Regions from separate parts of the Homo sapiens genome. Here all the other regions are linked to region 1. The links come from fine-mapping of genetic effects on gene expression. A gene starts in region 1. Each other region holds a variant in brackets. All regions are shown on one strand. Distances are between the middles of the regions. Region 1 holds the start of LDAF1 (lipid droplet assembly factor 1). Region 2 has its middle 51 kb from the start of NPIPB3. Region 3 has its middle 48 kb from the start of CRYM.

The links. PIP is the estimated chance that this variant, and not a neighbour inherited with it, causes the effect.
Region 2: its variant is fine-mapped to the expression of LDAF1 in whole blood (INTERVAL, PIP 0.92).
Region 3: its variant is fine-mapped to the expression of LDAF1 in whole blood (INTERVAL, PIP above 0.99).

What each region holds. Positions count from the first base shown.
Region 1 is chr16:21,154,951-21,165,666 of GRCh38, reverse strand. It overlaps LDAF1 (lipid droplet assembly factor 1), which reads right to left and starts at 6,993. Exons shown (of 5, transcript NM_001301771.2): 1 at 6,921-6,993; 2 at 4,389-4,582. The coding sequence starts at 4,484. It also overlaps a transcript of DNAH3 not described here. RefSeq lists enhancers at 5,712-5,861, 5,996-6,496 and silencers at 6,754-6,933, 6,984-7,113.
Region 2 is chr16:21,369,252-21,379,967 of GRCh38, reverse strand. It overlaps the pseudogene SNX29P1. Among named protein-coding and RNA genes, the nearest start is that of NPIPB3, 51 kb to the left of the region's middle. The variant C/A (reference allele first, on the strand shown) is at 6,242.
Region 3 is chr16:21,320,845-21,331,560 of GRCh38, reverse strand. No RefSeq gene overlaps it. Among named protein-coding and RNA genes, the nearest start is that of CRYM, 48 kb to the right of the region's middle. The variant C/T (reference allele first, on the strand shown) is at 5,804.

The sequences.
Region 1 (10,716 bases):
AACCTAGCAATCATGTGCAAGAGGCAGGTAGAAAGATTTGCAGGAAATCAGGCAAGATATACTGTGGTCAAGTCCAGGCTGATGGCAGAGAGGGAAGAGAAGGGGGAGGGGTAGATGGGTATGAAAGTGGAATGACAAAAGAAGGAATACACAGGACTTAGGGACTGTATGGCACAGGGATATAAAAGGAAACAGGCAAGACTGTTCCACTTCAGTCCTTAAGGAATCCACCTTTTTCTTAGCCTTTTGTTTTTTTGAGATGGAATCTCACTCTATTGCCCAGGCTAGAGTGCAATGGCATGATCTCGGCTCACTGCAACTTCCGCTTCCCAGGTTCAGGCGATTTCCAGCTAATATTTATATTTTTTAGTAGAGATGGGGTTTCACCATGTTGGCCAGGCTAGTCTCGAACTCCTGACCTCAAGTGATCTGCCCGCCTCGGCCTCCCGAAGTGCTAGGATTATAAGCATCAGCCACCATGCCCCGCCATTCTTAGTCTTTTCCGAGTCTGGGCTCTATAATCAAAGAGAAAGTCATTTAGATATGCAAAGAGACCAAGATTCAGATGATTAAACCCAGAAATTGTCTTCTCCCAGGAAGTACAGCTGAGCTCCAGCCAGTCTGTCCCAGGAGGGGAGGACACGATTCAACCACACCTAATAATAACAGAGAACATTCATTAAACACTCAGGTGCTGGGCACTGCTTTAAGCACCTCTCGTATTATTTCCTCATTTATTTCTTCCTACAATGCTACGAGGTAGGTAAAAAAGAACGACCTAACACTATTTAAACTCAGGGGGGTAGAACGTAGCAATTAACATTTCATTCTCATGGCAACAGAGGGGGATGCAATGGAAAGATGGAAAGTGGGAGAGGTTATTATTCAGTAACATGCACTGTGATTTTCCATCACCAGCCTGGAGGTAGACACAGGTTACCCAATCTAGGCTCTGTAAGCACAGTGCAGCACTGCAGAGCCCAGGAAGGCCAGGCTGAGACAGACTGACAACATTATGCGCCACCCTCTGTGCTAAAGCTTCAAACAGCATCTCAGATAATCTTCATAACAAACCTCTGAGCCTGACATTGCTCATTTTAGAAAAGAGGAGATGGCAGCTGGGCATGGTGGCTCACTTCTGTAATCCCAGCACTTCAGGAGGCCAAGGCAGGAGGACTGCTTGAGGCCAAGAGTTTGAGACCAGCCTGGGCAACACAGTGAAAGATGCTGTCTCTCCAAAAAATAAAATAAAACATTAGCTGAGTATGCTGGTGTGCACCTGTAGTCCCAGCTACTCAGGAGGCTGAGGCTGGAGGTGTTGCTTGAGACCAGAAGTTCGAGGCTACAGTAAGCCATGATCACACCACTATACTCCAGCCTGGAAGACAGAGTGAGACTCTGTCTCAATAAAAAATAAATAAAAAATTTTAAAAAAGGAGATGGAAATTCAGTGAGCCTAAGTGACTTGCCCAAGGTCAGACAAAGGCGGTTGGCTTCTAAACTAGGGACAAAGTGGCCAGTATTTGAGAACATGAAGACTGAAACTTGGATGATTCAGGAGCCAGGCAAATTCCCTGGTATCAGAATGCAAAAAACAATCAATGATTCATTATCTCTTCCTAACAGGAGAAAGACGAAGGGTCAGGACCATTTACAACCACTGGTGGCCAGGTGCGGTGGCTCACGCCTATAATCCCAGCACTTTGGGAGGCCGAAGTGGGTGGATTGCCTGAGGTCAGGAGTTGGAGATCAGCGTGGCCAAAATGGTGAGAAACCCCGTCTCTACTAAAAATACAAAAACAAACAAACAAAAAAGGCAGGTGAACGTGACTATTAACTAAGTTCAGACAGGGCCAGGGTGAATGCCTAGTGCAGTGCTTGGCATACAGTCAGTGCCAAGAAATATGCAGTCAATCCTTATTACTCATGATTCCATATTTGTAAATTTGCCTCCTCACTGAAATTTATTTGTAACCTCAAAATGAATACTGGCAGTGCTTTTTGTTTTGTTTTGTTTTGTCTGAGATAGAGTCTTGCTCTGTCACCCAGGCTGGAGTACAGTGGTGTGATCTTGGCTCCCTTCAACCTTCACCTCCTGGGTTCAAGCGATTCTCGTGCCTCAGCCTCCCAAGAGGCTAGGATTACAGGCGCACACCACCACACCCAGCTAATTTTTGTATTTTTCGTAGAGAAGGGGTTTCATCATGTTGGCCAGGCTGGTCTTGAACTTCTGGCTCAAGGGATCCACCCGCCTCGGCCTCCCAAAGTACTAGGATTACAGGTGTGAGCTACCACGCCTGGCCTGCAGTGCTTTTGAGGTCATTAGTGGACACGTCCACAACAGCAAAAAGTGGAGTCACCTGCCACGTACATTCCCAGCTGAGGTCAAGCAAGGTGACACCGAGCCTTCCTGTTTCATCCTTTAAACAAGTGTCACTGTGGTCTATTTAGTGCCACGTTTATGCTTTAGTTTGGTGATTTTACTGTTGAAAATGGTCCCCAAGTGTAGTGCTGAAGTGTTCTCTAGCGTTCCTAACCATGAGAAGGCTGTGATGTGCCTTATGCAGAAAATACATGTGTGTGATTAGCTTTGTTTAAGACATGAGTCATAGTACTGTTGTTGGCCCTGAGTTCAACGTTAATGATCAACAATATATATTAACATGTCTTTAAACAGAAATACACATAAAACGAGGTTATGTACTGATCAGCTGACAAAAATGTTGTGAACAGGAGGCTCACAGCAACTGAATCCTGTATTTCCCCTAGGAGCGATGGTTTGGTATGTGCTAATTCAGTGTCTGCAGTAACTTTATAGAACGTAACTACCATGGTTAATGAGAATCAGCTGTAAATGTGGAACAGGCAGGAGGACCCTTCTTACTGAGCTAACTTTTAATAACAAGAGTCCCCGCCAGCTGGCGAGAAAGCTGCTTGTCCAATTTAAAAATAGCTTGGTAAATCCACAAAGAGTGCCAAATAAATTCTGGAGCAAGTCCAGAATTTATTGTTGTAGATTGCAAACAAGCATCTCTTCGAGTAGACCCGCTGTGCTATCCAATACAAAAAAAAATACACCACAAAATAGTTCATTTTGTTACATATACATATGTATTTTTATAGGTATATTGCATAGAAAAAAGGTCTAGAATGACATACAAAATGTTAACAGTATTATCTCTGAAAGCTGTTTTCTTTTCCCTGACAAAATGCTGAAAGACATATAGAAGAAAGCAATAAGGATAAATATGCAAGAAAACATAACGCTATCTGAAGTCTCATTGCCACTGAGTGGCCACTGAATACCTAAAAAGTGGCTAACTCGAATTGAAATGTGCTAGAAGTGTAAAATATGCGCACGGGGGGTTTTGAAGAGGGAGTTCAAAAAAGAAGGTACAATGTTTCAAGAATCTTTTTTCATTAATAATTTTGTATAAATGATTACATGTTGAAATATTTTTGATATCTTAGGTTGAATAAAAACATTATTAAAAATAATTTTTTTTTTTTGGAGACGGAATCTCGCTCTGTCGCCCAGGCTGGAGTGCGGTGGCACAATCTCAGCTCACTGCAACCTCCGCCTCCTGGGTTCAAGTGATTCTCCTGCCTCAGCCTCCCGAGTAGCTGGGACTACAGGCCTTACCACCACACCTGCTCATTTTGGTAATTTTAGTAGAGATGGGGTTTTACCATGTTCGCCAGGCTGATCTCGAACTTCTGATCTCAAGTGATCCACCCACCTCAGCCTCCCAAAGTGCTAGGATCACAGGCGGGAGCCACTATGCCCAGCCAAAATTAATTTTACCTATTTCTTTTTACTTCTTACATGTGGCTACTAGAAAAATTCTAAATTACATACGTGACTCACATCATATTTCTATCGGACCTGGATTCCTAGTGGAACAATGAACTCAAATCTTGAAGTAGGCTTTTGTCTCTCATTTTCAGGGTAACAGATAGGGCAAAATTCACAACAAAACCAAACAAAACCAAAAAAAGGATGATATCTGTTGCACAGACTTCTTTATCCAGCTAAAGAATTGCATTTGCCATTAGTGGCAAATGACTCAATGTTGGCTTAAGGGATGTAATTGGAAGTATTGTGTGCGACTCCCAGAAGTCTCCTTAAATTGTAGGTGGCTTGCACTTCTCTCTTCCCCCCTCCTCAAATCCTGTTGCCTGAAAGATGGATACAATGGCTGATGCTCTTGCAGTCATCTCAGACAAGGAGTTTGAAGGTCACAGCATAGACATGGCAGGGCGGTAAGCCAGAAAGATTCTTGACTTACCTCCAAATTCCTTCTACTGGAGAAAGAAATAACTTTCTATCTTGTTTATGCTAGTGTTATATTGGGATTTTCCATTATACATAGTGATTGGAAACTGACCTTTGAGTTATTCTGGAAGGAGTCTATCAGCAGAGACAGCTTCTTCTGCAGTTCCTGCAAGTCCCTTGAGATACTCTGGGGCTCCTCTTTTGCCATTCTGAAGCTCACTTCAATCTCTTTAGGGATGAATTATCCTACCAGTAAATTCTCCAGTGCAGCCCGCGGTCCAATCTCTCATGTCGCTCTGTCTCTTGCTGTTACCAGAGGAAACAAAAGCCGTTAGTGGTCTTCATCCATCTGGTTCGACGAGAGCTTCTACCATCCTCATACCTTGATGGTGGGCATGCAGACGGAGGGTAACCTGGCAATATTCACAACAATTTCAGATTGCACACACTTCAATCCAGGAATTTATATTCCAGGAACATGATGGAAATAATCCAACAGGTATCTCAAAATGTACTAAAAGGCTGTGCATTGCATCCCTGTTTATAACATATAATGACTAGCAAAACATTGGAAAGTAGCTAACTGTATTTCCATTAGGAGAAAATTGGTTAAATAATGATAAATTCAGTCATTAAAATGATAGTGTGACTGTTTAGTGATGTGAAAAGATGTGTATGATACTTTTAAAAAAAGATGATAAAATGTTAATAGTATTATCTCTGACAGCTTATGTTTATTTTTTAGCTTGACAAAATGCTGAAAATATACAGAAAGCAAGAAAGCTGAACACACTATTTCAAATCTCATTGCCTTTTATTCTCCCTAGAAAGCTTTCCTTGTACAACAGTAGCCTTGACCTGTTTCTCTTCTTTATTACTGTACAGGTTGGCTCCCAATTCCATCATTCCATACATCATCATCTACTTACTTGTGGGTAAGTCTATCCCTGCTAAGGAGAACTGCACCTCGGGGGCAGACCTCACCACAGTAATTATACTCTAACTAAACTGCCTGGAATTTTGAGGGGTGTCCCAATCTCATACAATTTTTACTTATTTTTAATAAAGGCAATTGGTTAAATTAGATATATTTTTTAACCCTTGTTGAGTTTTCAAATATAAAAAAAAAATCATTCTTATTTTATATTTCCCAGAACTGGCTGGACACAGAGATATCTTTTCCATTTCTCCCTTTAAACTGACCTGACCTACAGTACAAATGCTTAAAAGATTGTGTCCACGTGGCCAAAATTAATTGAGAGATCCTCACATTTATTTATCATATAGGGGGTAATTTTATCTACTACTAAGCTGTACAGGGTCTAGTATGCAAATTAAAGCACATTTTAATCATCCCAGCTAGACATCCTCTGCTACTTCCCTTTTGTAAAACAAGAAACCCTTTGGAGGGGAAAGTTGAGGAGGGGACTAATCCCACCACCCCACATTCTCTCTTTGAAGCTGCCTCTGGCGTAGGTCTTGAACTTGGGATGTTCCCAGCACTCAGTTCCCATAATCTCATCTCTGCAGCAAGCAGAAACAAGCGGAGTTCCCCTTACAGGTCTCCTTTGGCCTGGGAGCCTCAAGTGCCACCCAGACCGGTTTGGGGAGTCCGATGAGAGAGTGCGTGGGGCGAATGCCATCGGCCACAGCCTTCAAATGCGTCTACCTGGCCACCAATTCCCAGACCCCCTGGTCACTCACTCCTCGGAGGGGCCTCCCCAGGCACGGAGCTGTCTCCCGAGAAGGGAAAGCGAGAACCCGGCGCGGCCAAGGAGTGCCCCGCCTTCTTCACGCCTGGGGGACTGGGCCAGGCCAACACCAGCTAACCCTTTCCCCTTCCAAGGCTCCAAATAAATCTCCTGGCCCTCCCACCCCCGAACCTCCAGGGGAAAACGGCTACCTCGAAAGTTCAAGCTGGGAGGAGGGGTCACATCTCTGGTTGGGGGATGGGAGCTACAGGGCGCCTCGAGCTCACACTGGCCGCCCCTCCCCATCCGGGCCCAGCCTTTCAGCGTTCAAAAGCCAGGGAGACCCAAGGAGAGGAGGAAGGGAGTGAAATGCAGGTGGAGAGGGGGTCCGCGTCCCAGAAGGCACAGAGACTGAATAATGGGAACTCAGAGGGGAGTCGAGTACTTAGTTATTAATTTGGGGGTAAAGAAGCCCCCTTTGATACTTGCAGATCTCTCTGCAGCGATGGGGAAGGGGACCTCGGTGGAGAAGAGGGGCTGGGTGGTGAGGAAGGCGCCCGTTTTCAATAATCCTAGGGAGGTTTGCCTCGACGTCTTCCCCAGGTTCCCCAGAAAGGGGCACAGTCTCGGGGTGTGGTGGTGCTAGCTACCATTTTACCTAATCTAGTGGTAGTGTGTGTGTGTATGTGTGTGTGTGTTGGGGGGTGGCGGGGTGAGTGTGCATTTAGGGGTGGGGAGGAATCGTGTCTCCTCGTGCGCTCCCAGCCCCGTCCCGGCGACTCATAAGCAGGAGACGCCCCTTACACTAACCCCGGGGCAGAAAGCTACGGGCGTGGGACCCCGATAGCGCGCTCACGCCGTCGCCCCCGCGCTCCTCCTCTGTCCCCGCCCGGCGAGAGGGGTCTAGCCACCCGGGGCACCCGGACCCCCACCCCCAAGCTCCGAGCTCTCACCTGCTCCTGACCGCCGAGCAGCCCCCACCGCGTTTGCAGGCGAAGCGAAGAGAGGCAGGAGGAGGAACAAGAGGAAGAAGGAAAGAGCGTCCCGAGAGGGAGCCAGAGCCGCCTGCCTCCGCCCCCTGGCCCGGGCACCGCCCCTCGGCTCTTCTCCTCTGGGCTCGCCCCGCCCGTGGCCGGAAGGATCCGGCAAAGGCGCGCCAAGGCCCGGCGCCCAAGGCTTTGCAAAGCGCGCTCGCTCCCACTGGCTTTCGGAGCCACTAGAACAAGCCCTGAGAGGTTGACAGCTGAGGAAACTGAGGCTCAGAGAGTGTCCCTTCCCACACGACTGGCTTGGAGTGAGAAAGCTCAGACCACCTTCAAGACAGGCAGACTGGCAGCCGAGAATGAGTTTTCCAAGGGTGTCAGGGTTTCCCCTCCTGTATGCCTAAAACCAGCTGCTCTGGAACGTCTCTGGCGCTCAAGACACACACGTGATGAAGTATCACCCTGGCTGGAAGTTTTTAACCATGACTGCTCAAATGCGAATGTCATAAGCCAGTGAGATCCTTTCAGATGGATTGGATGTCCATTTTACACATGAAAAAGTCCAGGCTGAGAGAGACAAGATAAATCAATCCAAATTCCTCGGTTTGCATGGATCCAAGTCGGAGCAGGAGCCCCTGTTTCCCCTGGCCCCAAATCTGCCCTATAGAGTAAGGTTTCTGAATAGTATGCTATTGACATTTGGGGCGGAATAATTCTGTTTCTGAGCTGTGGATTGTAGAATGTTTAGCAATATCCTAGCCTCTACCCATTAGATGCCAGTTACAAGAACCGCCCCCCCCCACCTCCAGTTGTGTCTCAAAATATTGCCAAATGTCCCCTGGAAGGCCCCATCGTCCCGAGGTGAGAACCACTGCTATAGAGCATGATGGCAACTTACTGTGTGACTAAGTAACCTCTCTGAACCATGGCTTCAACCATAAATTAGAGAGAGGGATAAGCCCAACCATTGGTCTGCTGTTGCACAGTTCTCAGCCACTTTCCAGACAGGGACCTGTGTTGACCGACCTCTCCTCTTTGCCTGTGGCCATAGCAACCTGGAAAATAAGTCTTTAGATAACAAAAAGCTGGCAGGGTGCGGTGGCTCACACCTATAATCCCAGCACTTTGGGAGGCTGAGGTGGGCAGATCACTTGAGGCCAGGAGTTCCAGACCAGCCTGGCCAACATGGTGAAACCCCATCTCTACTAAAAATATAAAAACTAGCCAGGCATGGTGGTGCGCACCTGTAATCCCAGCTACTCGGGAGGCTGAGGCAGAAGTATCGCTTGAACCTGGGAAGTAGAAGTTGCAGTGAAGACACTGCACTCCAGCCTGGGCAACAGAGTGAGACCCTGTCTCAAAAAAAAAAAAAAAAAAAAAGAAGCAATCACAGGGTTGTAGTGAGGACTGGTGCAATAGTGTGGCTGTGGCTGTCGAGAACTTAGCACCTATTGAGGCACAGAGTAGGGGCTCAAAAATATTTGCTTGGGATGATGATTTATGATGATGATCACGACAATGATATGATAAACCACAGAATCCTGCTGTAATTCCACAATAGCAGAAAGAAGAGCTAATGGTGGGGATAGGACAGACAAGAATCCCTAAATTCTTAAGTTTTAGCCAATCTTGTCTGGCGTCATGCACTTTGTTCAGCTGCAAAATGCTGGGTTCCCCACCCAGGAAAAGATTGTGTGTGTGTGTGTGTGTGTGTGTGTGTTTCCTTAGATTACAGCCTTCCAATCATCATTCCCTAAATGGAAGTTGCTTTGGAAAGCTGAGTTAGGGTTTCCACTGGGATTTTTGTTTAAGAGTGCCATCTAGGGGCGTCTCTGTGAATCTTCAAATTCCTTCCACCTCTGGCATTTTTGGCTGGGCCAGCAGAGTTTTGCTTGTCTTTGTGTGATAGATGCTTCCTCCATCACATCATGTGTTCCTCCAGGGCTGGGATCCTAGCATCTCTCCATAGCATCAGGACTTGGCCCTCAAGGAACATGCAGTGGTTGGGTTAAAAAAATCCACGCGCAGCCTCTCCTATGCTTTCCCAATTACTTGCTGCAATGGACTGAATGTCTGTTCCTCTAAAATCCTAACCCCCAATGTGATGGGATTAGGCATGGGGTTTTTGGGAGGTGATTAGGTCATGAAGGTGAAGCCCTCCTAAATGGGATTAGTGCCCTTATAAAAGAGATCCCAGTGGCTCACACCTATAATCCCACCACTTTGGGAGGCCAAGGTGGGTGGATTGCTTGAGTCTAGGAGTTCGAGACCAGCCTGGGCAACATGGCGAAACCTCTTCTCTACTAAAAATACAAAAGTTAGCCGGGCATAGTGGCACATGCCTGTAGTCCCAGCTACATGGGAGGCTGAGGCAGGAGGATCTCTTGAGCCCAGGCAGTGGAGGCTGCAGTGAGCTGAGATTGCACCACTGCACTCTAGCCTGGGCAACAAAGTGAGACCCTGGCTCATTAAAATAAAATAAAATAAAATAATAAAATAAAATAAAATAAAATAAATAAAATAAAATAAAATAAAATAAAATAAAATAAAATAAGAATAACTCCCAGAGAGCTCTCTTACCCTCTTTCCACCATGTGAGGATACAATGAGAAGTTGGCAGCCTGCAACATGGAAGGGGGCCTTCACTGGAACCAGACCACCCTGGCACCCTGATTGTGAACTTCCAGCCTTCAGAGCAGTGAGAAATAAATGTCTCTTGTTTATAAGCCACCCAGACTTTGGTACTTTGCTATAGTAGCCTCCAAGGATTGAAACTGTTGCTCTGCTTAAACAACTATTTTAGGCCTCAGGAATGAGCTGCCAGGAATACCAGCCTCTGAATAAGAAATGTGTGAAATTTTTTTAGCAACAGATTAAGACCCTAAACTCTTGATAACAAGAGGCAGGGGCAACTTGGAACCTTGCTGACCTCTGCTCCCCATGTTGGCAGATTTGGCAAATAAAAACACACGACACTCAATTAAATCTGAATTTCAGGTAAATAATGGGTAACTTTTTAGTACAAGTACAAGTACAGCCCATGTATTGAATGGGACATGCTTATACTAAAACTTTTTTTTTTTTTTTTTTTTTTTGAGACGGAGTCTTGCTCTGTCTCCCAGGCTGGAGTGCAGTGGCGCTATCTCGGCTTACTGCAACCTCCACCTCCTGGGTTCAAATGATTCTCCTGCCAAAGCCTCCGGAGTAGCTGGGATTACAGGCATGTGCCGCCACGCCCAGCTAATTTTTGTATTTTTAGTAGAGACAGGGTTTCACCATGTTGGTCAGGCTGGTCTCAAACTCCTGACTTTGTGATCCGCCTGCCTCGGCCTTCCAAAGTGTTGGGATTACAGGCATGAGCCACTGCTCCCGGCCCTAAAACATTCTTTTACCTGAAAAATTGTTTGACTGAAACTCTAATTTAACTGGGCACCTTCTGTTTTGTCTGGCAGCCCAATTGAGAAACAAGGCCGGGCATGGTGGCTCATGCCTGAATCCCAGCACTTTGGGAGGCGGAGGTGGGCAGATCACTTGAGGTCAGGGGTTCGAGACCAGGCTGGCCAACATGGCAAAACCCCATCTCTACTAAAAATACAAAAATAAGCCAGGTGTGTTAGCACACGCCTGTAATCCCAGTTACTGGGGAGGCTGAGGCAAGAGAATCACTTGAACCCAGGAGGTGGAGGTTACAGTGAGCCGAGATCATACCACTGCACTCCAGCCTGGGCAACAGAGCAAGATTCCATCTCAAAAAAAAAAAAAAAAG
Region 2 (10,716 bases), 210 kb before region 1:
ACATACATCCTACAACTTCCTCGCTGGTCCCCCCCGACCCTCAGCTTTAGAGTACTAAAATAGACATGATATGTAAATGTATTTATAAAGCAGCAAAGTGGAACGGAGCAGTCAGGTGGGTGACTTCCACTCAAGCAATGTCCCCAAGAGACAGACAGGAAATCCAAGCCTGCCAACAGGGCTCGCCTGATTTGCCTAATACAAGAAGAGACCATTTCAGACAGAAATTACAGAGCCTCTATGGCTTCATCAACCAGGGCATTTAATATAATGCCTGCCTTGGCCAGGCACGGTGGCTCACACCTGTAATCCCAGCACTTTGGGAGGCCAGGGTGGGAGGATCACTAGAGGTCAGGAGTTCAAGACCAGCCTGGCCAACACAGTGAAACCCCATCTCTACTAAAAATATAAAAAATTAGCTGGGCATGGTGGCAGGTGCTTGTAATCCCAGCTACTCGGGAGGCTGAGGCAGGAGAGTCGCTTGAACCCAGAGGCTTGGTAAGCAGAGATTGCGCCACTGTACTCCAGCTTGGGCGAAAGAGCGAGACTCCACCTCAAAATAATAATAATAATAATAATAATAATAATAATAATAATAATAATAATAATATAATGCCTGCCTAGGTTACAGGCCTGAAAGCCCACATTATCCTTGGAAAAGGCTAGGAGGCTAAAAATGCCCCACAAATCTAGATGGCAGTTGGGGTAGGGGTGTCAAGGAAGCCTACAGGGCCTGTCCAAGGTCATCTAGCCAATAAATGGTCCAGCCAGGGCTTAAAAGCAGGTCTCCCGAGTCCAGCTTCCAAGCTCTCTCTGACTTCCTGTTAAGCAATGGAAACCAAAAATCCCCAGTGCCATAACTTCCCCGCCAGGTCATTGAATTCTAAATTAATCAAGGAAAAAGTCAATTTCACTAAAGCAAAGTCAGGGATACATGACCTGTAGTTGGGTGAGAGACTGGAAAAATTAGCCACTGAAGTGACTGAATACAACTGACAGAAAGAAAGAAGAGGAGCATTTCCAATATACTTTCCCAGAAAATGTTAGTAGACGTACAAACCACATGCTCAAGCTGACATTCTGACTGCACCTGATTCCTAAAATCATAATCCTTTAAAAATCTGAGCCCGTTTTCACGCATCTAAATGAATGTGTTTTCCCAACATCCAGCTAGGGAAGTGGCTGGTGATCCAGGTAAAGTCAACTGTGATTCTTACCTGCTGGACTGACTTCTCCTTGTTGGTCACTTCAACTTTGAGACTGAGTATGTAACTCTGAACTACCCGTAAATGATATGCTGGAAGGAGCTTCACAGAAACTCACTTCAAAAAAAAGGAGTAGGTCAGACACAGTAGCTCACACCTGTAATCCCAGCACTTTGGGAGGCCGAGGTGGGAGGATCACGAGGTCAGGAGATTGAGACCATCCTGGCTAACATGGTGAAACCCCGTCTCTACTAAAAATACCAAAAATTAACCAGGCATGGTGGCGGGCACTGGTAGACCCAGCTACTAGGGAGGCTGAGGCAAGGAGTATCGCTTGAACCCAGGAGGCAGAGGTTACAGTGAGCCAAGATCGCACCACTACACTCCAGTCTAGGCAAAAAAGCGAGACTTCTTCTCCAAAAAAAGGAAAGAAAGAAACAGGAGTGTGTTTTCCTTAACTAAAGCTGGTTAATGCCCTAGAGGTCCAGACATTCTCAGCCTCCGAACTCCGACCGTGAGCAGTACACAGGTGTCGTCAGTGTCAGTCCTCCTGGCTCCCAAGCCCTCCCATTTTGGACACATAGAGTCTTGCCATACAATTGAACAAGGAGCCACAGGCAACAGAGAACTTTAAGGGTATTTTTAAGAGCCCCAGTGCACAATCCCAGAAGATCTGAGACATTACCAGTAGAGAGGTGACCACAGCAGTAGATAAAGCAGAAGAGGAGACCTAAACTAGGGAACACAGGGCAAGATATAAAATCAAGGGAACATGCCACACTACTCACAAACTGCCCACTTATTGAATTCAGTGAAATTTCACTGTTGAAGATCTGGGCGGTGCTGATCAGGAAGTTACTTAAGGAACCAGAACAGGATTCATCAGGGTCACTCCGTATCACTCAAGGACACAAAACAACTTGTCTAGTCCACCATTCTCAGAGCAAAAGTAATGGCCACGGCCAGGCACAGTAGCTCACGCCTGTAACCCCAGCACTTTGGGAGGCCTAGGCGGATCACCTGAGGTCTGGAGTTCGAGACCAGCCTGGCCAACATGATTAAACCCCGTACGCACTAAAAATACAAAAAATCAGCTGGGTATGGTGGTACACGCCTGTAATCCCAGCTACTCAGGAGGCTGAGGCAGGAGAATCACTCGAACTGGGGAGATGGAGGTTGCAGTGAGCCCAGATAGCAGCAGTGCACTCCAGCCTGGGCAACAGAGTGAGGCTCCGTCTCAAAAACAAACAAACAAACAAAAATGACTTCCTTCCCCAATGTAAAATTTCCATGTGTTTTTCAGTTTGGGATTGAATGAATGCAAGAATCCCAAATTAAAATTCTGCACCTGTCATGGTAGCTCATACCTGTAATCCCAGCACTTTGGGAGGCTGAGGCGGGAAGATTACTTGAACCTAGGAGTTCGAGGCCAGCCTGGGCAACACACTGAGACCCCATCGCTACAAAACAATTTTTTAAATTAGCCAGGCAGGGTGGCATACACTTAGGGTCCTAGCTGCTCAGGAGGCTGAGGTGGGAGGATTGCTTGAGCCAGGGAGGTCCAGGCTACAGTGACCCGTGTTCATGCCACTGCACTCCAACTTGGGAAACAAAGCAAGACCCTGTCTTTAAAAAAAAAAAAAAAAAAAAAAAAATCCAGAAAGTGAAGAGGAAGCTATGTCCTAGGACAACAGCTCTCTCCACATCCAAGCTGGCTGTATGCAAGTGCCATGCCGAGCCCGTTACAGGCAGTCTCTCAATGATTCTCCCCCAAGTTTCTCCACAGCTCAGCAGAACACTCCGGAGCTGTCAGAGGGAGGCCCACTTGCCCCAGATCGGGGAACTAGGATGAAAATCCAGGTGGTCTGACTACAGACTCCAAGATCTTCACCCCTTGCTCCATCCCATTCCAGGTCCCATCCCGGCCACGTACCTGAGCCTGCAGCGGTCGGCCAGGAGCATGTGCAGGTAGCACTCCAGGGAGTGTTCGTTGAGGGCACAGCGCAGCCAGGCGCGGCCCCAGCCCACGTCTGAGGCGATGTGGCGCAGGGAGTAGAAGCGCTTGCAGCTCGTGCTTGTTGAGGACCTCCTTCACGTAGTACCAGAACACGGGCTCTACGGAGAGAGGGTGCAGGCGCCTGGCACTCGGCCTGGGGCACTCAGCACTGGGAGAGGAACACACAAAGCCTCTAGGCAATGTTGGAGATTGTAACAGAGTATCCCCTTAGCATGGAAAAGGTAGGAGATAACACCAAAGACATGGTATCAACCCAGATACTCATCAATAGTGGACTAGATAAACAAAATGTGGTACATTTACACAAAGGAATACTATGCAGCCATGAAAAAGAACAAAATTGTGTCCTATGCAGCAACATGGATGACTGGAGGCCATTATCCTAAGCGAATCACACAGAAATAGAAAACGAAATAGTGGATAGTCTCACTTATAAATGGAAGCTTAACACTGGGTACACACAGACATAAAGATGGCAAACAACAGACACTGGGGGCTGCTAGAGAGAGTAGAGAGGGAGGAGAGCACGGACGGAAAAACTACCTACCAGGTACTATGTTCACTACCTGGGAGATGGGTTCAATCGTGCCCTGAACCTCGGCATCACACAATGTACCCAGGTAACAAACCTGCACATGTACACCCTGAATCTAAAATAAAAATTGAGGCTGGGAACGGTGGCTCATGCCTGTAATCGCAGTACTTGGGAGGCTGATGTGGTGGATCACTTGAGGCTCGGAGTTCAAGACCAGCCTGGCCAACACAGTAAAACCCCATCTCTACTAAAAATGCAAAAATTAGCTGGGCATGGTGGCGCACACCTGTAATCCCACCTACCGGGCAGGCTGAGGCAGGAGAATCACTTAAAACCAGGAGACGGAGGTTGCAGTGAGCTGAGATTGCACCACTGCACTCTGGCCTGGTGACAGAACAAGACTCAGCCTCAAAAACAATAATGAAATAAGAAAAAAAGGTGGGAGATACAGAAGAGTATATCAAAAATAAAAATGACTCTAAAACCTCTCATCCAGAAAAGACCAATATTGACATTTTCAAGAATTTTCAGTCTTTTTTACTGCACTTTTCTTTTTTATAAAAAAAATCAACATTTGCTGTAGGCTGAATTATAATCCTCAAAGATATCGACGTCATAAGCTCCAGAATTCTCTGAATATTACCTTATATAGTAAAAGAGTCTGTGCAACTGTGTTAGGATCTGGAAACTGGGAGGTTATCTTGCATAATCCCTGTGAGGCTGATGTAATCACAAGATCTTCATAAGAGGCAGGCAGAGAGAAACTTGACACAGAAGAGGAGGACATGATGTGGCCAGAGAAGCAAAGACTAGAATGGGGCAGCCATAGCCAAGGAAGGTGGGCAGCGAGCAGACTCTGGAAGGGCCAGAAACGGATTCGGCCCTGAAGCCTCTGGAAGGAAGCAGCCCTGCTGTCACCTTGACTTTAGCCCAGTGAAATGGATTGGGGACTTCTGGCCTCCAGAACTGTGGGAGAATAAATTATAGTGTTTAAAAGCCACCAACTGTGTATTACTTTGTTACAGCAGCCAGAAGAAAAGAACACATCAGGCCAGGCACAGTGGCTCATGTCTGTAATCCCAGCACTCCAGGAGGCCGATGCGAGCGGATCATCTGAGGTCAGGGGCTCGAGACCAGCCTGGCCAACATGGTGAAACCCCATCTCTACTAAAAATACAATAATGAGCCAGGCATGGTGGCAGGTGCCTGTAATCCCAGCTACACAGGAGGCTGAGGCAGGAGAATCACTTGAACCCAGGAGGCAGAGGTTGCAGTGAGCCGAGATCGCACCACTGTACTCCAGCCTGGTCGACAGAGCAAGACTCTGTCTCAAAAAAAAAAAACAGGCTGGCGCGGTAGCTCACGCCTGTAATCCCAGCACTTCGGGAGGCCAAGGCAGGCAGATCACGAGGTCAAGAGATCGAGACCATCCTGGACAAAATGGTGAAACCATGTCTCCACTAAAAATACAAAAATTAGCTGGGCATGGTGGCACACGCCTGTAGTCCCAGCTACTTGGGAGGCTGAGGCAGGAGAATCACTTGAACCCAGGAGGCGGAGGTTGCAGAGAGCCAAGATCATGCCCCTATACTCCACTCTGTCTCAAAAAATAAATAAATAAAACCACATCATATTGTATGAGTGTATACGCATACATATTTGTATGTGTAATTTTGTATCCTGATTCATTTATTTTCTTGTCTAGAGCATGAACATTTTCCTATTACAATTAAAAGTCTTTCAAAGATGATTTTTGATGGCTTTCCAGTAAAACAACTATTTCCATACTGCTAAGGGCATGGCACATGGCCAACTTTCCCTCTGTACAGTAAAGAACACCCCTATACATAAATAATTGTCCTCATTCCTAGTTCCTTAGGAAAGATTTCCACATGTCAAATTACTCAGTCTGAGGATAGGAACAGATTTAAGGCGTTATGGGAAACCTAAGAAAGTTTGTTTTTATCCATAAGACGGTCATTCCTACAACTACTTGTATCTCCTCACATCCCACCACTTTTTATCCACATGTACACAGATTTTTAAAATTTTTTATATACATTTTAAGTTAATTATTATTTATTTATTTTTGAGACAGGGCCTCTCCCTCTGTCACCCAGGCTGGAGCTCACTGCAGCCTCAACGTCCTGGGCTCAAGTGATCCTCCTGTCTCGGCCTCCCATGTAGCTGAGACACAGGCACGCACCCCCATGCCCAGCTAATTTTTTAATTTTTATTTATTTGTAGAGATGAGATTCTGCTATGTTGTGCAGGCTGGTACCAAACTCCTGGCTTCAAGCGATCCTCTTGCCTGAGATTCCCAAAATGCTAGGATTACAGTCAGGAGCCACCTTGCCCAACCCCAGATATTTTCATAGTTGTAATGCTAGTGTATACATAATTTTGTGATCAATTTTCTTCACTTAACATTGGCTCTTTAACATTTTTTCATGCTGGCAATAATAATAACAGCAGCAACAGCAA[C/A]TACTATTTACTGAGCATTAACTATGCACCAGCCATTGCAGTAAACACTTTACATCTGACATCATCACAACCAAGGCCATCTCCATGTGAAAGACAAGGTCTGAAGCCAGGACAAGTGAAGTGACTCGCCCAGCAACACAGTTAGTAAACAGTATGGCAGAAAGGGACCCCAGAGCTCACTGCAAACCACTAAATCACACTGCCCTGCAAAATGAGGGGACTTGGCCCTCTTCAAAATGATCACGTTCACAACTGTTTAATATTCCAAGTGGGGGAAGCTGAGTCTTTGCAGTCGGACCTGGCTTCCAATCTAGGAGCTAAACAGGCTCACAGTCCCCTCTGAAATGTGACAAAGGCTTTGAACCTGCCTTCCAGAAGGAGGCAAGTACACCCATCTCCAGAAACTGCATGGCAGGCTAGTTAAGTTCACTCTAATGTTTCAATTCAACTTCACTAGGATCCACTGCATTCTTCCTGGGAGCTGTGAACCAAGCTAGGCTATGTGTCACCAGCTAGAGACAACAAGAACTCGTCCCTAAGGGGCTTCCAGTCTAGCAGGCAGGACAACAGAGAAAAAGTCCATTCAACCAAATGACCTTGAGCAAGTCACTCAACCATGCTAAGCCTGAAAATCCTCTCCCATAAAATCAACACAAAAGTGCAGAATCGCCCAGGGTTACTGGGGTAACTAGAAAGGGAAGGAAAGCACCGAGCACAGTGCCCAGTCCATGATGACCAATCAGCATTTGCTTAATAATTAATTCTCTTCATAGCAGAGGGCATTCGCGTGGGTTCCTTTTTGTGTTAGCAGCATCTAAATGTATACATCCGTATGAGCGTGCATAAGTATTTGTGGATCAAGACAATCACTGGGATCATTTAGGATAAACTTCCCAGGAATAACAAAAACCAGCAAGAGGGCAGGTCCCTCAAGACTGTCTTCTGTCTCAATCCCTAAATGTCAAACTAATCCACTTCCCAAGCTCATCCGATCAGTCTAATCCACACAACTGTACAAAACAGCCTTCCTTCCACTCTCCGCCTCACTCAGAAACCAGGACGGGGAATCTGGCGACAACAACGCCCTGGGCCAGCCGGCCAACAACGTATTTCAAAATACCCCAGACCATTGTCGGTACGTCCATCACATTTCCAGTCAAGTGACTCTCACTTGCAGCCTGTCTTGAAAAATGCAGTCACCTCCCTCCGACCTTGAATCTACATGAACGCTTTAAAGTGTGTTTTCACCTTTCAATTCTGCAAAATTGCTTACTGCTACAGAATCCTTTTAAAGCTTGTCAGGGTGATGCTGCTGATGATAAGAATTATCCCAGCAGGGTTCCGCTTCCACTGCCAGAGTTAATGTGGTCTATTTAAAGGGCAGCTCACCTGCCAATTAGCGCCTGCGGTGTCCGTAATTTAATTTAGGGATATACACTGATCTGCTTTGAAACATGGGGTTAAGTCAAAAAGCGGGCAAGGGCTTCTGGTTCTCCAAACACCTGAAAGCCGAATGCCAACAAGAACAAGTGCCAGGAAGGGGTGTTGAGAAGAGCTGCCCCGGGACACCTATTAACAGAGGATGACTAACAGCACCAGGCTTTTGGGAAAGTTTCTATCAAGACTTAACTATCACCGATGCCCAAGAATTCATTCCTTGGGGACCACAAGGAAGACAAAAACCTTGTCCCAAATTCTAGTTCAGGCACTGTGTGACCTTGGGAAACTTATTTTGTCCTCTACTTTCTTCATCTGTACAGTGGGGAGAACAGTACCTATGTGTATGGATTGCTATGAGGGAAAAATGAGAAAAAGGAATACATGTAAAGTGTATCCAATAAATGCAGTGAATAAATGTTAGCCATAGTTATTAACATACCTGGCATATAATTGGTGCTCAACGAAAACCAACTATTAATATCACTACTACACGTGCACCAAACAGCATTCCTTTTCCTTGTTTGGGGTTTTGTTTTGTTTTGTTTTGTTTTTGAGGGGTGGGGTGCGGACAAGGTCTCACTCTGTCGCCCAGGCTAGAGCACAGTGGCACGATCATAGTTCACTGCAGTCTTGAACTCCTGGGCTCAAGCGATCTTCCCATCTCAGGCTCATGAGTAGCTGGGACTACAGGTGTACACCACCATACACGGCTAATTTATTTTTTTCTGTAGAGACAAGGGTCTTACTATGTTACTCAAGCTGGTCTTGAACTCCTAGAATCAAATGATCATCCAGCATCGGCCTCCCAAAGCACTGGGATTATAGGCGTAAGCCACCGAGCCTGGTCCCTTTCCCTTTCTTCTAGTAAGACCACCCCTCTTTCCTATGGGAAACACATTCCACTGGGATCCTTCAGCACTATCCTAACCTCCCCCTACTGCAGGGGTGGACAGCTAACCCAGGGCAGGCAATTAACTGGCCGGAACCATGGCATATGCAACTTTCATTTTTTTTTAATATTACATAAAAATAGTATTTATCTTGATTGATAAGTTTTTTGGTACCGCCTTCAATTTTGTGGCCAAAGTGAGTGTGTCACTAACCTCACCCCAGTCTCAGCCCTGGACCACAGGGTCCCTTCGCACAAGTTCTACCAGAGCCACCAGAAAAGAGGCCTTGTCTCCTCCAGGAGCTGAGGTCAGCAAACAATGGCCTGGGGGTCAAATTTGGCCTCCAAACTGTTTTTGTAAGCACAGTGGTCTTGGAACGCAGCCACACCCATTTGCTCCCATATGGTCTGTGGCTGAGTTTCTGCTCCAGTGGCAGAGCTGAGTCACTGCGATGGAGATTGCATGGCTCACAAACCCTATAATATGACCCATAAGGAGGGAGTGTGCCGACCCCGTCCTAGAAGTAGGATCTCTCATCATCCTGGAAACCTGGAGCTACTTGGGGCCATTTTCCACCCCATCATGTAGAGACCCCCCACCTGGAAAGACACCCAACCACAGAGAAGCGGTGCTGAGGGATGACAGATGGAGACAGATTTGGGAGAAGGGCAGGCCCCCTGAATCCAGCTCAACTCCAAGATGATTTCTTAGATACTTGAGTCAATAAATAAATGTCCTTCATCTTTTTTTTTCTTAAATCAATCTAAAGAATTTTCTATCATTTGCAACCACAGGAAATAATGCAGTGAGACAGGGCATGTTCTTCAGTCATCTGACAATCATCTATAGAAGACCAAGAACACACCAAGTGCTGAGCAACACCTGTGCTCCACAGCCATGGGGGGTGAGGGGTGTCTCATCAATGTGACAACACTGCCCCAAAACAAAGCATTGCTCAACAACAACAAAAAAAACAGAAAACCCGCCGGGCACGGTGGCTCACGCCTGTAATCCCAGCACTTTGGGAAGCTGAGGCAGGTGGATCACGAGGTCAGGAAATCGAGACCATCCTGGCTAACACGGTGAAACGCCATCTCTACTAAAAATACAAAAAATTAGCCAGGTGTGGTGGTGGGCGCCTGTACTCCCAGCTACTTGGGAGGCAGAGGCAGGAGAATGGTGTGAATCCGGGAGGCGGAGCTGGCAGTGAGCCGAGATGGTGCCACTGCACTCCAGCCTGGGCAATGGAGCAAGACTCTGTCTCAAAAAAAAAAAAAAAAGAAAAAAACAGAAAACCCAAGACCAGCCTGGGCAACATAGTAAGAACCCATCTCTAAAAAAAGGAAACAGAAAACCCAACTACAAGGAGCCGAGTGTGGCAGCACACACCTGTAGTCCCAGCTACTTGGGAGGCAGAGGCAGGAGGATGGCTGGACCCCAGGAGTTTGAGGCTGTAATGAGCTATGATTGCACTACTGCACTCCAGCCTAGTTAACAGAGCAAGGCCCTGTCTCTAAAAACAAAACAAAACAAAAAAACCCACACACAAAGAAAATCCAACCCCATGGAGCTGGGCTAGTCTGGAAATAGGCCAGTGATACAAAGGCTATGTCAGGCCAAAACCTCCAACCTTTTGACCTCGCTGTCACAGAGGACTGTCCTAACTTTGGGCATCTCATTTACAATTGAGCAGGAAGAAAGGGAATGGGATGAAGCCAGCTTTATCGCCCCTTTTATCAGGAAAGAACAAGTAATCCCAGAAAATCACAAGGGAGCAAAGAAAGCAAAGAACAAAACTCAAAACTGGCTTAATCCCTCACCGAGATAAAGGAGTACATACCACAGCCTCAAGCAAAATCTGGGTTCTATCAAAGCCAAAGAAGACAGAGGGATGAATCTGAGGGCACACTCTAACAGAATCAGCCACACATGGTATCAGCCATGCCAGGAACAAAGGTAAACCAAGTTCACTCATGTGCCAGCCTGAGAACTCAGTGAATACAAGTGCTCCTAAATCTGTCACATCCCAAACTGAGCCAGCCTGACTGCAAGGCACAAATGGATTGGCAGAGCAGAGTGCCAACAAGGGGCTGAGCTCTGTCACTCTACCATCTTCCAACTAGCCACAAGACTGCCTTCCAGAAC
Region 3 (10,716 bases), 170 kb before region 1:
GGGACTCCTCCCTAACTCATTTTATGAGGCCAGCATCATCCTGATACCAAAGCCTGGCAGAGACACAACAAAAAAAGAGAATTTTAGACCAATATCCCTGATGAACATCAATGCGAAAATCCTCAGTAAAATACTGGCAAACCAAATCCAGCAGCACATCAAAAAGCGTATCCAGCACAATCAGTTTGGCTTTATCCCTGGGATGCAAGGCTGGTTCAGCATATGCAAACCAATATACATAATCCATCACATAAAGAGAACCAGTGACAAAAACCACATGATTATCTCAGTAGATGGAGAAAAGGCGTTTGACAAAATTCAACAGTACTTCATGCTAAAAACTCTCAATAAACTAGGTATTGACGGAACGTACCTCAAAAAAATAAGAGCTATTTATGACAAACCCACAGCCAATATCATACTGAATGGGCAAAAACTGGAAGCATTCCCTTTGAAAACGGGCACAAGACAAGGATGCCCTCTCTCACCACTCCTATTCAACATAGGGTTGGAAGTTCTGGCCAGGGTAATCAGGCAAGAGAAAGAAATAAAGGGTATTCAATTAGGAAAAGAGGAAGTCAAATTGTCCCTGTTTGCAGATGACATGATTGTGTATTTAGAAAACCCTATTGTCTCAGCCCAAAATCTCCTTAAGCTGATAAGCAACTTCAGCAAAGTCTCAGGATACAAAATCAATGTGAAAAAATCACAAGCATTCCTATACACCAATAACTGACAAACAGAGAGCCAAATCATGAGTGAACTCCCATTCACAATTGCTTCAAAGAGAATAAAATACCTAGGAATCCAACTTACAAGGGATGTGAAGGACCTCTTCAAGGAGAACTACAAACCACTGCTCAATGAAATAAAAGAGGACACAAACAAATGGAAGAACATTCCATGCTCATGGATAGGAAGAAACAATATCGTGAAAATGGTCATACTGCTCAAGGTAATTTATAGATTCAACACCATCCCCATCAAGCTACCAATGACTTTCATCACAGAATTGGAAAAAACTACTTTACAGTTCATATAGAACCAAAAAAGAGCCCGCATCGCCGAGACAGTCCTAAGCCAAAAGAACAAAGCTGGATGCATCATGCTACCTGACTTCAAACTATACTACAAGGCTGCAGTAGCCAAACAGCATGGTACTGGCACCAAAACAGATATGTAGACTAATGGAACAGAACAGAGGCCTCAGAAATAACACCACACATCTACAACCATCTGATCTTTGACAAACCTGACAAAAACAAGAAATGGGGAAAGGATTCCCTGTTTAATAAATGGTGCTGGGAAAACTGGCTAGCCATAGGTAGAAAGCTGAAACTGGATCCTTTCCTTACACCTTATACAAAAATTAATTCAAGATGGATTAAAGACTTAAATGTTAGACCTAAAACCATAAAAACCCTAGAAGAAAACTTAGGCAATACCATTCAGGACATAGGCATGGGCAGGGACTTCATGACTAAAACACCAAAAGCAATGGCAACAAAAGCCAAAATAGACAAATGGGATCTAATTAAACTAAAGAGCTTCTGCACAGCAAAAGAAACTACCATCAGAGTGAACAAGCAACCTACAGAATGGGAGAAAAGTTTTGCAACCTACCTATCTGCCAAAGGGCTAATATCCAGAATCTACAAAGAACTCAAAAAAATTTATAAGAAAAAATAAACAACCCCATCAAAAAGTGGGCAAAGGATATGAACAGATGCTTCTCAAAAGAAGACATCTATGCAGCCAATAGACACATGAAAAAATGCTCATCATCACTGGTCATCAGAGAAATGCAAATCAAAACCACAATGAGATACCATCTCACACCAGTTAGAATGGCGATCATTAAAAAGTCAGGAAATAACAGATGCTGGAGAGGATGTGGAGAAATAGGAATGCTTTTACACTGTTGGTGGGAATGTAAATTATCTCAACCATTGTGGAAGACAGTGTGGTGATTCCTGAAGGATCTAGAACTAGAAATACCATTTGATTCAGCAATCCCATTACTGGATATATACCCAAAGGTTTATAAATCATGCTACTATAAAGACACATACACACGTATGTGAATTGCAGCACTATTCACAATAGCAAAGACTTGGAACCAACCCAAATGTCCATCAATGATAGACTGGATTAAGAAAATATGGCACATATACACCATGGAATACTATGCAGCCATAAAAAAGTATGAGTTCATGTCCTTTGCAGGGACATGGATGAAGCTGGAAAGCATCATTCTCAGCAAACTATCACAAGGACAGAAAACCAAACACTGCATGTTCTCACTCATAGCTGGGAACTGAACAATGAGATCACTTGGACACAGGGTGGGGAACATCACACACCGGGGGCTGTCGTGGGGTGTAGGCTGGGGGAGTGATAGCATTAGGAGAAATATCTAATGTAAATGACGAGTTGATGGGTACAGCAAACCAGCATAGCATGTGTATACCTATGTATCAAACCTGCACATTGTGCACATGTACCCTAGAACTTAAAGTAAAATTTTTTCAAAAAAAGGGAAGTTCCATCTTAAAGGGAAATAAAAAACAGATCTGCCTGGGCGAGGTGGCTCACGCCTATTGGGGAACCTGCCCCCAGTAGTCACGTAGGTTCTTTTCTATTTTCCCTAAGCGTCGGCCAGGTTGAGAAATAAAGGGACAGAGTACAAAAGAGAGAAATTTTAAAGCTGGGCATCCGGGGGATACATCACATGTCGGTAGGTTCTGTGATGCCCCACAAGCCGCAAAACCAGGAAGATTTTATTAGTGATTTTCAAAGGGGAGGGAGTGTACGAATAGGGTGTGGGTCACAGAGATCTTGTGCTTCACAAGGTAATAGAATATCACAAGGCAAATGGAGGCAGGGTGAGATCACAGGACCACAGGACTGGGGCGAAATTAAAATTGCTAATGAAGTTTCGGGCACCATTGTCATTGATAACATCTTAACAGGAGACATGGTTTGAGAGCAATTGGTCTGACTAAAATTTATTAGGCAGGAATTTCCTCATCCTAATAAGCCTGGGAGCACTATGGGAGACTGGGGCTTATTTCATCCCTACAGCTAGACCATAAAAGATGGCCACACCCAAGGGGGCCATTTTAGAGGCCTACCCTCAGGCATTCTCTTTCTCAGGGATGTTCCTTGCTGAGAAAAAGAATTCAGTGATATTTCTCCCATTTGTTTTTGAAAGAAGAGAAACATGGTTCTGTTCTGCCCAGCTCACCAGCAGTCAGAGTTTAAGGTTATCTCTCTTGTTCCCTGAACATTGCTGTTATCCTGTTCTTTTTTCAAGGCGCCCAGATTTCATACTATTCAAACACACATGCTCTACAATTTGTGCAGTTAACAAAATCATCACAGGGTCCTGAGGCGACATACATTCTCCTCAGCTTACGAGATGACAGGATTAAGAGATTAAAGACAGGCATAAGAGATCACAAGGGTATTCATTGGGGAAGTGATAAGTGTCCATGAAATCTTCACAATTTATGTTTAGAGACTGCAGTAAAGACAGGCATTAAGAAAGTATAAAAGTATTAATTTGGGGAACTAATAAATGTCATGAAATCTTCACAATCCACGTTCTTCTGCCATGGCTTCAACCGGTCCCTCCGTTCGGGGTCCCTGACTTCCCGTAATACACGCCTGTAATCCCAGCACTTTGGGAGGCTGAGGCAAGCAGATCACCTGAGGTCAATAGTTTAAGACCAGCCTGGCCAACGTGGTGAAACCCCGTCTCTACTAAAAATACCGAAAATTAGCCAGGCATAGTGGAGGGCACCTGTAATCCTAGCTACTCAGGAGGCTGAGACAGGAGAATTGCTTGAACCCGGGAGGCGGAGGTTGCAGTGAGCCGAGATCTCGCCATTACATTCCAGCCTGGGCAGCAAGAGCAAAACTCCACTCAAAAGAAAAGAAAAGAAACCATCCATGAAATTCATTCAAAATCCTACAATAAGAGAATCTCTAGTAGAGAAAATACTAAGAAATTAAGGAACAATACTACTTTATTGTTTCAATATTTGAGGCAATTATGTTTCAATATTTGAGGTGATCAATCAATGAATTTAGCCTAGATTAAACTTAATCTAATTGAAATTTTAAAAGACTGGGGTGTCATTTGTACTCTTCTAAGCCAAAGTAGTTAGTCATTTAAAATATCTGTATGTGGAATTGTATACACTAAAGATTTTCTTAGGAGTAAATGTGTTTGATGTAAACAGGATATCAAAGGCTTCAAAAGCCTGCAGGGGAAAATGAAATATCATGCGGTTTTATTACTCAGATTTAAATGGCTTGATTGTCACAACTCTTCCTGCAGCAAATCCCCAATAGTCTGATTCTCAAAAGCTTCCATCGGGAGCCTCATCATTGCCAATGTAGATGGAATAGCTTGAGAGAACATCAACATCCTCACCAAAGGTACTATTCCATGCTTCTCAAGTCCCCGTCTCTCAACAGGGTTTCCACTCCCTGCCACACTTGTCACCTGGACTCCAACGTATCACTAGTTCTGAATCTCAAAAAGACTAGCATACAGTCAGTTCCCTCAGCTACTTTGCTCCACTCATTTTTTGCACAAAAAACTATGAAAAACAAAGCAAAATAAAAACATAACACTCAACTCCAAAGATTTAGCCCCCATCCTGGACAAGTGTCTTTTCTGTATGTAGGGATCCTGGGTGGAGACCCTTGAGTTTTGAGCCTCCAAAACATCTGCATTTAGGTGAATGCGGTGGTTGGGCACTTGCTTTATATTTGCATAAAAATGAGGCATTCCTATAGTTCTCATAAACAAAGAAACACCTTTATCCAAAGGGAAGAGGGAAGAATGAGGTCAGATTCTGGAACTGACCTGGATTCTGGTGTTCCTGAGTTAATATTTATTTAGCCTGAGAGGTGACTGTGCATTCACAATGATTTATCTCCAAGACATGTACTGTAAGCCCTCACTTATCATCATCAATAGGTTCTTGGAAACTGTAACTTTAAGTGAAATGATGTATAACGAAACTAACTTTGCCATAATCTAATTGATATAAACAAGAGTTAAGGGCCAGCATGGTGGCTCATGTCTGTAATCCCAGAACTTGGGAGGCTGAGGCAGGGGGACTGCTTGAGGCCAGGAGTTTGAGACCAGCCTGACCAACATGGTGAGACTCTATTTCTACAAAATTAAAAAAAAATTAGCCCAGGAGTAGTGGCCCACATCTGTCATCCCGGTTACTTGGGAGCTTCAGGTGGGAGGAACACTTGAGCCCAGGAGTTTGAGATTACAGTGAGCTATGATTGCACCACTGCACCCCAGCCTGGGTAGCAGAGCAAGACCTTGTCTCTGAAAAAAATTAAAAAAAAAAAAAGAGTTAAGTTTTTATTGTATATTACTGTTTTCTTTTTTCGGGGGTCAGAAAAACATCACCAAACATCTAAATAAATACCAAAACACTTCTAATATTAAACACTGAAATAAATAATGTGAGCCATATATACATTTAAGACAGATTAACAAACACAAGTAAAATAATGATTTAGATAGTTATTCCAGTTCAGGGTCGCAGGGGGCCAGAGCCTGTCCCTGCAGCTTAGGGCACAAGGCAAGAACCAACCCTAGACTGGATGAATGCCATCACGGGGCACAGTCACGCACACCTCACACTCACTTAGACTGGGACAATGTCAACACGTCAATTCCCCTAAAGTGCACATCTTTGGGATGCAGGAGAAAATTGGAATGCCCAGAGAAAACCCACACAGATACGGAGAGAACATGCAAGCTCCA[C/T]ACTGACAACAGCCCGGGCTGGGAATCAATTTCTTTTTTCCCATCAAAATTATAACAAAATGACGTTGGACAAAATGACATTATTCAAGGGCCTGCTGGATTTGAGGCAGCCACTGAAAGAAAGGATCCAGCCTCCCTGACTGCTTTTTATACCCAGATTTCCATGTTGATCTCTAGTCAGCAACATAATCATTCCCCAAAGTTGATGAAATTTTGATAAGAGTAACAGCTTTCATGATGAGATGAATCAGACATCTCTCAGCTTCATGTGTGACTCCATATGACCAGCTTATACTTGGCTGCCAATGTTCTAAATCACTCATCAGCTTCAAAGAACCCAAGGGCACACACCAGGACAAGGCTTCATCTGCGCTTGCCGCTAATCATGGTAACTCATGGCTGAGGGTGTGCCCAATATTTTGGCACCAACCTGAGCCCCTTACTGCATCTCAAACAGGCTGGGGATGGTAGGTATCAAGGATAGTCCAATTAGTTTTGAAAAAACAGTAAATGTACTGCTTTTCTAGTCCATAATGCTAACAGTTGTGATATATTGTGATACAACTATGGTGTCAGAAAAACATGCAATTGCCCTTAGGGACTGTCACTGATGATACATTTTGATATAAAACTGCAGATTTTGGCCAGGTGTGGTGGCTCATACCTGTAATCCCAGCACTTTGGGATGCAGAGGCGGGTGGACCACTTGAGGCCAGGAGTTCAAGACCAGCCTGGCCAACATGGTGAAACCCCATCTCTACTAAAAAATACAAAAAATTAGCTGGGCGTGGTGGTGCATGCTTGTAATCCTAGCTACTTGGGAGGCTGAGGCAGGAGAATCCTTGAAACTGGGAGGCAGAGGTTGCAGTGAGCCAAGATCGCACCACTGCACTCTAGCCTGGGCGACAACTGCAAAACTCTGTCTCAAAAAAAAAAAAAAAAAAAAAAACCTGCAGATTTATTATTGTGAGGAAAGGGTAAATAGCAAACATAAATCCTATTTTCCTGGACCCAGGTGTACCCACTAAGATAACTATGAGTTTACTCTCTGGCAGCACTGTGCCTAGGTATGTGCTGAGTTTAAAAATACAGAATGTTAGCAGTGCCTGGAACTCATCATCAACATTGTTTGCTGCCATATATCTCGTCTAGAGACTACACTTGACTTGAGAAGAAAGTAAGTAGGACTTTGCACAAATTCTGGCAAACAAAAGTGGAGGCTTCCATATAATTACAGAGTCTACACCGTATCGACCTCAGCTCTTGAACTGAATGTGCCCTGTGTACTGGTGGAACGTACAGCTGCACCTGTGCTGTTGGGAGACTTTCATATGAAAGTGCTGATGCTGTACATGTTATGTTCCCATCCTGGACACCATCCATTTTCATCATTCTTGGTTATGTTCTATAAAGTCATCACAGACACTTGAGTTAGGGAATACTGAAAGATTACTCCTAGGGAAAATACTCCTAGGTTCCTGCAAGCCTCTGGTCACATTTTCATCAATTGATCAATACACGACCTGTTTTTTGGGGTGTTTCCGTTTAAAGACACCTTATTTAATACATACTGTTGATTCACTAACACTGACCTCACAGCCAGCAGCAGTATAACTCATGCCTGAATTAAGCTTCTCTAACATAGATATTTTCTCCAAAAGACATAATCAGGGCCAGGCACAGTGGATCATGCCTGTAATCCCAGCGCTTTGGGAGGCCAAGGTGGGCAGATCCCTTGAGATCAGGAGTTCTAGACCAGCCTGGCCAACTTGGTGAAACCCCATCTCTCCTAAAATATAAAACTGTAGCTGGGTGCAGTGGTGTGTGCCTGTAGTTTCATCTACTCAGGAGGCTGAGACAGGAGAATGGCTTGAGCTGGGGGAGGTGGAGGTTGCAGTGAGCCGAGATCACGCCATTGCACTCCAGCATGGGCAACAGAGTAAGAATCTGTCTCAAAAAAAAAAAAAAAAAAAAAAAAAAAAGACATAATCATAGCCCTTTTGCACTTAGGAACATGAGACAGTACTTCAGCACTATGCCTGGGGCTGACATTAAACAACAAAATCACCAACATAAAGAACAAAGATGCAAAAAAAAAAAAAAAAAGGCACTAACTATATCAAGTCAAGAATACTTGTTTGCAGTATGAGGGTTGAAACAAGGTGGACAGGGTGTCATCTTCTTTGACCTGGCCAAGGCTGGGAACCACCCTTGGAGAACTCAAAATTTTTTGCCACTCCCTGCATGTCTGCAAATGACCTCAAAAGTGAAACAGTTACTGATTTTGAGTTACACATAAATTTTAGTGAGTTGTTGAATTCACAAATTCAGAATCCACAAATAATGACAGTTAATTCTACTTTCTTAAGACAGTTTAATCTGATGGTAGCTTAAAGTATATTTGGATTGCTATCCAAACCTAAGAACATTGTTGGTGGCTATGAAATTACGCTGAGGGGTCATAATCATCACTTTTGGTAAAACTGCAAAATACCAGATGCAAAGCACCTGATCTAATCTCCCTTTCTCAGGGGGTAGGCAAAGCTGGCACATAAATTTCAAAGCTGAAAGTAGCTTCTTGGGGGCTGGAATCAGGGGGGAACCTACAAGAGCTGGTCAGGAGCAGGAGGAGACATGGGCCTCAGAGAATTCAAATCATCAAAGTTGGTAAAACTAAGTCCACTCTTAAGAATAAAAAAGGTAGGCTGGGCGCGGTGGCTCACGCCTGTAATCCCAGCACCTTGGGAGGCCGAGGTGGGTGGATCACCTGAGATCAGGAGTTTGAGACCAGCCTGACCAACATGGATAAACCCCATCTCTACTAAAAATACAAAATTAGCTGGATGTGGTGGTGCATGCCTGTAATCCCAGCTACTCGAGAGGCTGAGGCAGGAGAATTACTTGAACCTGGGAGGCAGAGGTTGCAGTGAGCCGAGATCACACCATTGCACTCCAGCCTGGGCAACAAGAGTGAAACTCTGTCTCAAAAAAAAAAAAAAAAAGGACACAGCTGGAAATAGAACATAATATCAAAATTTAAGAGCTAGATGCTGGAAATGGAATATAACATCAAACGTTAAAAGCGGCCAGGCGCAGGGGCTTACGCCTGTATTCCCAGCACTTTGGGAGGCAGAGGCAGGTGGATCATTTGAGGTCAGGAGTTCAAGACCAACCTGACCAACATAGTGAAACCCTATCTCTAACAAAAATACAAAAAAAATAGCCAGGTGTGGTAGCAGGTGCCTGTAGTCCCAGATACTCAAGAGGCTGAGGCAGGAGAATTGCTTGAACTCGGGAAGTGGAGGTTGCCAAGTGAGCCGAGATTGGGTCACTGCAGTCCAGCTTGGGTGACAGAGTGACACTCCTCCATCTCAAAAAAAAAAAAAAAAAAAAGGTTAAAAGTTAGGTGGAAGTGAAATAAAAGGGAAGAATCACAAAGAACAAACCCAGAATGCTCTTGAGTTCCAATAAAGCTGAAATATTTGCAGTTGGCCTTTATGACTAGGCAGGCTTAAAACCACAAGATCCAGGTGGGAAGATTAAGATTAGAGAGGAAAGACAGGATTGATTTCCTTGGACCAGGTAGTTGAAGGCAGAAAGTTTGGTTATTTCCATTGCCTTGAATGAATCCAAGATGCAGTAATCCACATTTCAAATGGACAGGTTTACAGAGGAGATAGACATGGTTTCCTGTTCAAAATGTTTCCTCTACTGTTCATTTTGTTTCATATTTTGTATTACTATTTGGGAAACAGAAGACACGTTGGAAGTATTGCTAGATGCTACAGCTTTTCCAAATAGTCACTGGCAGGCTGGCCTTATGGTGATACTCAGCACAGATGGTGGCAGAGCAGAAAGTTGTGTTTCCTATAGTAATAATAAATCCAGTCTTTTTTTTTTTTTTTTTTTTTTTGATGGAGTCTCATTCTGCCGCGCAGTCTGGATCGCAGTGGCACGATCTCGGCTCACTGTAACCTCCACCTCCCAGGTTCAAGTGATTCTCCTGCCTCAGCCTCTTGAGTAGCTGGGATTACAGGCATGCACCACCACGTCTGGCTAATTTAGTATTTTTAGTAGAGATGGGGTTTACCCATGTTGGTCAGGCTGGTCTCAGTAATAGAGTAGCTGGAACTATAGGTGCCCGCCACCACACCCAGCTAATTTTTGTGTTTTTAATAGTAGAGACGGGGTTTCACCATGTTGGACAGGCTGCTCTCAATCTCCTGACCTCATGATCCACCCGCCTTAGCCTCCCAAAGTGCTGGGATTACAAGCATGAGCCACTGCACCCGGCTGGCCAATAAATCTAGTCTTTACTGAGTACTTACCATGTGCTGAGAACTGCTCTAAATACTTCACATATACACAACTACCCTATAAATAAGACACTATTATTATTTTCATTTTCCAAGTGAGGAAGTATAGTTTATTTTGGTTTGTCCTAGAGCAGGGGCCCCCAAACCCCAGGCCATGGACTGGTACCGGTCCATGGCCTGTTAGGAACCATATCACACAGCAGGAGGTGAGCGGCCGGTGAGCGAGCAAAGCTTCATCTGTATTTACAGCTGCTCCCCATCACTTGCATTGCCAGCTGAGCTTTGCCTCCCATCAGATCAGCGGAGGCATTCGATTCTCATAGAAGCGCAAACCCTATTGTGAACTACGTATGTAAGGGATCTAGGCTGCAAGCTCCTTTTGAGAATCTAATGCCTGATGATCTGTCACTGTCTCCCATCATCCCCAGATAGGATTGCCTAGTTTCAGGAACACAAGTTCAGGCCTCCTGCTGATTTTACATTATGGTGAGTTGTATAATTATTTCATTATATATTACTATGTAATAATAGAAATAAAGTACACAATAAATGTGATGTGCTTGAATCACCCTGAAACCATCCCTCTGCCACTGGTCT